2 separate regions of the Homo sapiens genome follow, and region 2 is linked to region 1. The links come from fine-mapping of genetic effects on gene expression. A gene starts in region 1. The other region holds a variant in brackets. All regions are shown on one strand. Distances are between the middles of the regions.

Region 1 (4,389 bases):
ATTTAAGAATGATAGTATATTATGGAAGATTCGAGTCATACAACATGCCTTACCCATGAAATTGTACCATCTTGGAGAGTGATCCATTGTTTTTTAAAGTCTTCCTCCAGAAAGCACTCTGTCCATTTGTGGGGGTCTGCCGGAGGCACACATTTCATACACATTGACTTGAATCAAATGAGATCCCTTTGTGCTCTCAAGTGTACGGCTATTTTTGAGAATCATTTATTAAGTGATTACTTAATAATTACATCATATTTTCCTCAGAACTAAGCATTACTTTGCTTTTGTACTTATATCAATTTTTAAAATTAAGACATATGCACAAACAACAAAAAGTTTATGAAGTATTTTCTGGAAATAGTGTCTATTTCCTATAGTGATATTACCCTATCAGTATACTGATAAACCTTAGCAGTGGTTAACTTAGCTACACATGTTCTAACATGCTCCTGAATCCCCCATGCTGGGTTACATCCTCTTTCTAGGTATTCCCTCATCCTGTATTACACTGGCATTGTTTATGTCTGTCTCTCCATTAAACCCTATGTTCTGTGGAATACTGTCATATCCAAGTTTATATGCCTAGTGTAGTGACAAGCACTTTAAATAAAGGCATTTACCTGATTTAAACAACTTAATGACTAAATTAATAAATATGAATACTGTAATCTTTGTTTTGTTGCTTGTGTTCTTTTACAGATTAGAATTTGGTCCATAGTTCTTACGTTTGTTTTGGGAGAATATTTTGACCCACTTCTAAGAAGTGTTTCACCTGATCCTGGCTATTTATGACTATGGCTATTGGACTGGATGGGTTCCAGGCATACACTGTCTTGCCTAAAGTAGCGGAATGCGACATCCCTGAGGGTAAGCAAGTGTGTTAGCTTTGTGTTCTGTGCCCTCCTCCAGAAATGACAGTACTTGCTGCAAGACTGTGAGCTCATCGAGGCAGAAGCCATGGCATTCAAATTAGTTTCCTGAGCCAGAACTTAACATCTGCCACAAAGTAGGCAGTTCAGTGAGCTTTTGTAGTTTCCAACTGGATGCAGCACTATGACTGCTTTTAGCTACTAACAGGGCCAGGCACTGAAACAAGCTCTAAATCCCCACAGAAAAATCACTCTGAGCCATCCATCCCTAAATACCAACCTGTGCATGCTATTCACCGTGCCAAGAGCGTTCACTCATTTTTGCTTCTCACAAATCTTTTTTTTTCTTCCTATGGCTTGCATGTTTTGAATGACAGCTAAATCCTAATGCGGACTGTTTATACAATGGAGTCCCACGGAGCCCAAAGATTGTGGTAATATTATTACAGAATTCTCATGATCCTTTTATTATTTTTTAAAAATGAGCCGTATGAATGTGGTAATACTATTAAGTGTCCGGCTCGATGAATTCCTCCATGTGTACACAGCCCGGAACGACCACCAGGATCAAGACGCAATGTTTCCAGCTTTCCATAGGTTCCCTCGTGCCCCACCCCTCAGAAGTAAACGTTATTCTAACTCCTATCACTACCGGTAAGTTTTGTAGGGAATTATTTTGGAGGAAGTGGAAGGTGGAATGAATGGGCCCACAGTCCCCTGGGACTGGGCGAGACCCGTGGAGGCTCCAGGGGTCCGTAGAGCTCTTCGCTCTCACCGACCCGGGCCACACCCGCCAAGCTGGTAGTTCTCCGAACGGATCCCTCACGCCCAGCAATGGCCGGAGGGCCCCCGGGCCCCACCATAATAGCGCTAAGCACGCCACAATGGCAGCCCCGCTGTCTCCCGCGCGGGCCTCGCTGCGTGCTCCCAACCTTGGGAGTTGGCGCCCCTCCCGCGCGACGGACAGCCGGGCGTGGCCCTGGGCGCGACCCGACAGGACGCCAGCAGCCGGCGGGGGCGCTCCAGGACTCGAGATGTGGGGCGCGGGCCCATTGGCTGAGCATTCCCCCGCGAGCCTCCCGGCCGCAGGGCCCACCTCCCGGCCCTCTCTCCGCGCCCCCATTGGCCGTTCGCGTTCCGCGGGCGTCCGCTCCCGCCCCACTCCCGCCCGGAGGGAAACCGGGTTGGGGGTGAGAGGCTAAAGCAGGGAGGAGGATGACTGGTCCTGCGGATAAGGGTGTGCGCGAGAGCCAATCAAAAGCGGATGTCGAAAAGAGGCGCCGCTCCAGCCAGTCACGTCGCGAGGTGCGGTCGGGGCCGGCTGACGCGACTGCGGGCCTCAGCCAATGGGCGTGCCACTGCCCGTCCGCTCTTCAGCAGCCGGTCGCGGGCGGTGGAAAAGCGAGTGAAGAGAGCGCGACGGCGGCGGCGGCGGCGGCGCAGCTATTGCTGGACGGCCAGTGGGAGAGCGAGGCCTGAGCCTCTGCGTCTAGGTGAGAAGGGGGTGCGCCAGCGGGAGCGGCCGGGCTGCGGGCTCCTCCTCGCCTGGCTCGGGAAGTGGTTGCGGGAGCTCGGGCTGCAGGCCTGGCCGAGGCGGGGGCGCCGACCAGCCGTCCCGCCCCCGCCCCCGCCCGGGTACGCCCAGAAGTGAGGGCGCCCGCCTCACCCCGGGTGGTCTCTGCCCCTCTTTGCCCCGCCGCCGCCCTTCACAGGGCCGGGACCGCGTGGGGGACGTACGGTGGGGCCTGGTTTGCAGCCGCGGAGCCCGGGGAGCCGCCTGGGGTGGGAGGCCGCTAGAGGTGGCGAAGGTGGGGCGGGGTGGTTAGCCGAGCAGCGGGCTCCGCGTGCTCGCGGGAGGGTAGCGGCAAAGGGAGGCCTAGTGATTGCAGGATTCCGGGTCTGGGGAGGAAGAAAGTGGTGGGAAATAGGTGATGCTCAGAAAAGGGTGCTGAGGGAGAAGGCGCGGGGCCGGGGAGTGTGGTTGGCCTATTAGAAGTAAGGATTGATAGGGCCTGGGTGGAGATCAGCTGGGAGTGAAGGGGGGACGGGCTTGGGTTTTGAAGGTGAAGGTCTCTGGAGAACTGGGGACACGTGGATCTGGAGTAAGAGGCACCTACTGAAACCGGAAGGTGGCTGAGAAGGTTTTATGTGAGGTGTGGACGGGAGGCTATTGGACTAGAAGGCATTAGTTGGTCTGTTAGGACAAAGTATACAAGCAGCAAACGCGGTAGATTTATGTGTGGTAGGTGAAGGCTGTGAATCTTTTATGAGTAGTTGAGCAAGAACAGTTGTCTGATTCTGCGGTGTCGGAGAGTGGAGGGTCTCAGGTAGTGTCTTGGTCAGGTTTGAAGGTTAATTTACTGCTAGTGGAGGGCCAAATACTCAAAAGAGTTTTTAATTCTCACTACTGGGGCTGATCCTCCTCCTACACTCCACCCCTCCTGCCATCCCTGTGACAGTTCATCTCGTTTTGCCTCAGCAGCACAAGAACTCACTCCCTCCGAAGTAATGGCATACATATTGTTTGCTTTTGACTAGATGGCAGTCAGGAATCCCTTAATTCTTTATGTTAAAAAAAAAAGTGTTGGTTTAAAGACAACATCAGAAGATACTCTCAGAAAATCTGCCCTCCAGGGGAGTTTCTCAGCTGTCATGTTGGGCATGTGTAATATAGCATAAAAATGATGCAAGATCTCTTACAGTAATACAAGTGAGAATTAACGTATAAGTACAATCCTGATGTATTTTTTTCAAATTAATTTAAAAAGTAAACAGAGACAGGGTTTGCTGTCGCCCAGGCTGGAGTGCAGTGGCGAGATCATAGCTCGTTCCAGCCTCAAACTCCTCGGCCCAAGAGATCTTTCCACCGTGGCCTCTCAAAGGCTTGGGATTACAGGGGTGAGCCACCCCACCCAGGCCCTGTTATTCCATACATTTTCCATAAAATTATTTTATAATTTTTGTTTTGTTTTGTTTTTATTTTATAAATTTGTGTGTGTGTGTCTCGCTTTGTTGCCCAGGCTGGAGTGCAGTGACGCGATCTTGGCTCGCTGCAACCTCCACCTCCCAGGTTCAAGTGATCAGCTCTTGCCTCAGCCTCTCGAGTAGTTGGGACTACAGAGACATGCCCCACCGCACCGGCTAATTTTTGTATTTTTAGTAGAGGCGGGGTTTCACCATATTGGCCAGGCTGGTCTCGAACCCCTGACTTCAAGAGATCCATCCGCCTCGGCCTCCCAAAGTGCTGGGATTACAGGCGTTAGCTGCCGCGCCGGCCAAAATTATTCCATAAATTTATCCATAAAAATTCCACATAAATTTTCTGGAGTTTGATTATGTATTAGGCTTGTTGGGAAATTTATTACCCTTGTGAAGAATTTTGTAGCTAAGTAGCTTGAGGGTTTTTTTTTTTTTTTCACTCAGGAAAGACATGGTATGTATGCATCACTGCTATTCTATTTGAAGCTTTTGGAATTTTTATTTATGGGGTGTGGATAGAGGCTGGAGGCAGAGACTG
Region 2 (4,389 bases), 44 kb before region 1:
GAGACAGTCTCACTGTCACCCAGGCTGGAGTACAATGACATGACCTCAGCTCACTGCAACCTCTGCCTTCTTTTTTTTTCTCTTTTTTTTATTTTATTATTATTAAACTTTAAGTTTTAGGGTACATGTGCACAATGTGCAGGTTTGTTACATGTGTATACATGTGCCATGTTGGTGTGCTGCACCCATGTACTCATCATTTAGCATTAGGTATACCTCCTAATGCTATCCCTCCCCCTGCCCCCACCCCACAACAGTCCCCGGAGTGTGATGTTCCCTTTCCTGTGTCCAAGTGTTCTCATTGTTCAATTCCCACCTATGAGTGAGAACATGCAGTGTTTGGTTTTTTGTCCTTGCAATAGTTTGCTGAGAATGATGGTTTCCAGTTTCATCCATGTCCCTACAAAGGACATGAACTCATCATTTTTTATGGTTGCATAGTATTCCATGGTATATATGTGCCACATTTTCTTAATCCAGTCTATCATTTTTGGACATTTGGGTTGGTTCCAAGTCTTTGCTATTGTGAATAGTGCTGTAATAAACATACGTGTGCATGTGTCTTTATAGCAGCATGATTTATAATCCTTTGGGTATATACCCAGTAATGAGATGGCTGGGTCAAATGGTATTTCTAGTTCTAGATCCCTGAGGAATCGCCACACTGTCTTCCACAATGGTTGAACTAGTTTACAGTCCCACCAACAGTGTAAAAGTGTTCCTATTTCTCCACATCCTCTCCAGCACCTGTTGTTTCCTGACTTTTTAATGATCGCCATTCTAACTGGTGTGAGATGGTATCTCATTGTGGTTTTGATTTGCATTTCTCTGATGGCCAGTGATGATGAGTATTTTTTCATGTGTTTTTTGGCTGCATAAATGTCTTCCTTTGAGAAGTGTCTGTTCATATCCTTCACCCACTTTTTGATGGGGTTGTTTGTTTTTTTCTTGTTAATTTGTCTGAGTTCTTTGTAGATTCTGGATATTAGCCCTTTGTCAGATGAGTAGGTTGCGAAAATTTTCTCCCATTTTGTCAGTTGCCTGTTCACTGTGATGGTAGTTTCTTTGGCTGTGCAGAAGCTCTTTAGTTTAATTAGATCCCATTTGTCAATTTTGGCTTTTGTTGCCATTGCTTTTGGTGTTTTAGACATGAAGTCTTTGCCCATGCCTATGTCCTGAATGGTATTGCCTAGGTTTTCTTCTAGGGTTTTTATGGTTTTAGGTCTAACATGTAAGTCTTTAATCCATCTTGAATTAATTTTTGTATAAGGTGTAAGGAAGGGATCCAGTTAAAGCTTTCTACATATGGCTAGCCAGTTTTCCCAGCACCATTTATTAAATAGGGAATCCTTTCCCCATTGCTTGTTTTTCTCACGTTTGTCAAAGATCAGATGGTTTTAGATATGCGGCATTATTTCTGAGAGCTCTGTTCTGTTCCGTTGATCTATATCTCTGTTTTGGTACCAGTACCATGCTGTTTTGGTTACTGTAGCCTTGTAGTATAGTTTGAAGTCAGGTAGTGTGATGCCTCCAGCTTTGTTCTTTTGGCTTAGGACTGACTTAGTGATGTGTGCTCCTTTTTGGTTCCTTATGAACTCTAAAGTAGTTTTTTCCAATTCTGTGAAGAAAGTCATTGGTAGCTTGATGGAGATGGTATTGAATCTGTAAATTACCTTGAGCAGTATGGCCATTTTCACGATATTGATTCTTCCTACCCATGAGCATGGAATGTTCTTCCATTTGTTTGTATCCTCTTTTATATCATTGAGCAATGGATTGTAGTTCTCCTTGAAGAGGTCCTTCACATCCCTTGTGAGTTGGATTCCTAGGTATTTTATTCTCGTTGAAGCAATTGTGAATGGTCGTTCACTCATGATTTGGCTCTCTGTTTGTCTGTTGTTGGTGTATAAGAATGC[C/T]TGTGAGTTTTGCACATTGATTTTGTATCCTGAGACTTTGCTGAAGTTGCTTATCAGCTTAAGGAGATTTTGGGCTGAGACAATGGGGTTTTCTAGATATACAATCATGTCATCTGCAAACAGGGACAATTTGGCTTCCTCTTTTCCTAATTGAATACCCTTTATTTCCTTCTCCTGCCTAATTGCCCTGGCCAGAACTTCCAACACTATGTTGAATAGGAGTGGTGAGAGAGGGCATCCCTGTCTTGTGCCAGTTTTCAAAGGGAATGCTTCCAGTTTTTGCCCATTCAGTATGATATTGGCTGTGGGTTTGTCATAGATAGCTGTTATTATTTTGAGATACGTCCCATCAATACCTAATTTATTGAGAGTTTTTAGCATGAAGCACTGTTGAATTTTTTCTTTGTCAAAGGCCTTTTCTGCATCTGTTGAGATAATCATGTGGTTTTTGTCTTTGATTCTGTTTATATGATGGATTACATTTATTGATTTGCATATGTTAAACTAGCCTTGCATCCCAGGGATGAAGCCCACTTGATCATGGTGGATAAGTGTTTTGATGTGCTCCTGGATTAGGTTTGCTAGTATTTTATTGAGGATTTTTGCATCAATGTTCATCAAGGATATTGGTCTAAAATTCTCTTTTCTGGTTGTGTCTCTGCCAGGCTTTGGTATCAGGATGATGCTGGCCTCATAAAATGAGTTAGGGAGGATTCCCTCTTTTTCTATTGATTGGAATAGTTTCAGAAGGAATGGTTCCAACTCCTCCTTGTACCTCTGGTAGAATTCGGCTGTGAATCCATCTGGTCCTGGACTCTTTTTGGTTGGTAAGCTATTGATTATTGCCACAATTTCAGATCCTGTTATTGGTCTATTCAGAGATTCAACTTCTTCCTGGTTTAGTCTTGGGAGGGTGTATGTGTTGAGGAATTTATCCATTTCTTCTAGATTTTCTAGTTAATTTGCGTAGAGGTGTTTGTAGTTTTCTCTGATGGTAGTTTGTATTTCTGTGGGATCAGTGGTGATATACCCTTTATCATTTTTTGTTGCGTCTATTTGTTTCTTCTCTCTTTTCTTCTTTATTAGTCTTGCTAGCGGTCTATCAATTTTGTTGATCTTTTCAAAAAACTAGCTCCTGGATTCATTAATTTTTTGAAGGGTTTTTTGTGTCTCTATTTCCTTCAGTTCTGCTCTGATTTCAGTTATTTCTTGCCTTCAGCTAGCTTTTGAATGTGTTTGCTCTTGCTTTTCTAGTTCTTTTAATTGTGATGTTAGGGTGTCAATTTTGGATCTTTCCTGCTTTCTCTTGTGGGCATTTAGTGCTATAAATTTCCCTCTACACACTGCTTTGAATGCGTCCCAGAGATTCTGGTATGTTGTGTCTTTGTTCTCATTGGTTTCAAAGAACATCTTTATGTCTGCCTTCATTTCGTTATGTACCCAGTAGTCATTCAGGAGCAGGTTGTTCAGTTTCCATGTAGTTGAGCGGTTTTGAGTGAGTTTCTTAATCCTGAGTTCTAGTTGGATTGCACTGTGGTCTGAGAGACAGTTTGTTATAATTTCTGTCTTTTACATTTGCTGAGGAGTGCTTTACTTCCAACTATGTGGTCAATTTTGGAATAAGTGTGGTGTGGTGCTGAAAAAAATGTATATTCTGTTGATTTGGAGTGGAGAGTTCTGTAGATGTCTATTAGGTCTGCTTGGTGCAGAGGTGAGTTCAATTCCTGGATATCCTTGTTAACTTTCTGTCTCATTGATCTGTCTGATGTCGACAGTGGGGTGTTAAAGTCTCCCATTATTATTGTGTGGGAGTCTAAGTCTCTTTGTAGGTCACTAAGGACTTGCTTTATGAATCTGGGTGCTCCTGTATTGGGTGCACATATATTTAGGATAGTTACCTCTTCTTGTTGAATTGATCTCTTTACCATTATCTGATGGCCTTCTTTGTCTCTTTTGATCTTTGTTGGTTTAAAGTCTGTTTTATCAGAGACTAGGATTGCAACCCCTGCCTTTTTTTGTTTTCCATTTGCTTGGTAAATCTTCCTCCATCCCTTTATTTTGAGCCTACATGTGTCTCTGCATGTGAGATGGGTCTCCTGAATACAGCACACTGATGGGTCTTGACTCTTTATCCAATTTGCCAGTCTGTGCCTTTTAATTGGAGCATTTAGCCCATTTACATTTAAAGTTAATATTTTTATGTGTGAATTTGGTCCTGTCGTTATGATGTTAGCTGGTTATTTTGCTCGTTAGTTGATGCAGTTTCTTCCTCGCCTTGATGGTCTTTACAATTTGGCATGTTTTTGCAGTGGCTGGTACTGGTTTTTCCTTTCCATGTTTAGTGCTTCCTTCAGGAGCTCTTTTAGGGCAGGCCTGGTGGTGACAAAATCTCTCAGCATTTGCTTGTCTGTAAAGGATTTTATTTCTCCTTCACTTATGAAGCTTAGTTTGGCTGGATATGAAATTCTGGGTT

Evidence for each region. PIP is the estimated chance that this variant, and not a neighbour inherited with it, causes the effect.
Region 2: its variant is the best candidate, but not a certain one, in a credible set for the expression of FAR1 in whole blood (TOPMed, PIP 0.69).

Annotation. Positions count from the first base shown.
Region 1 is chr11:13,666,442-13,670,830 of GRCh38, forward strand. FAR1 (fatty acyl-CoA reductase 1) reads left to right here and starts at 2,227. Exons shown (of 12, transcript NM_032228.6): 1 at 2,227-2,365. RefSeq lists silencers at 1,777-2,266, 2,377-2,656 and an enhancer at 2,737-2,786.
Region 2 is chr11:13,622,934-13,627,322 of GRCh38, forward strand. No RefSeq gene overlaps it. Among named protein-coding and RNA genes, the nearest start is that of FAR1, 44 kb to the right of the region's middle. The variant C/T (reference allele first, on the strand shown) is at 1,917.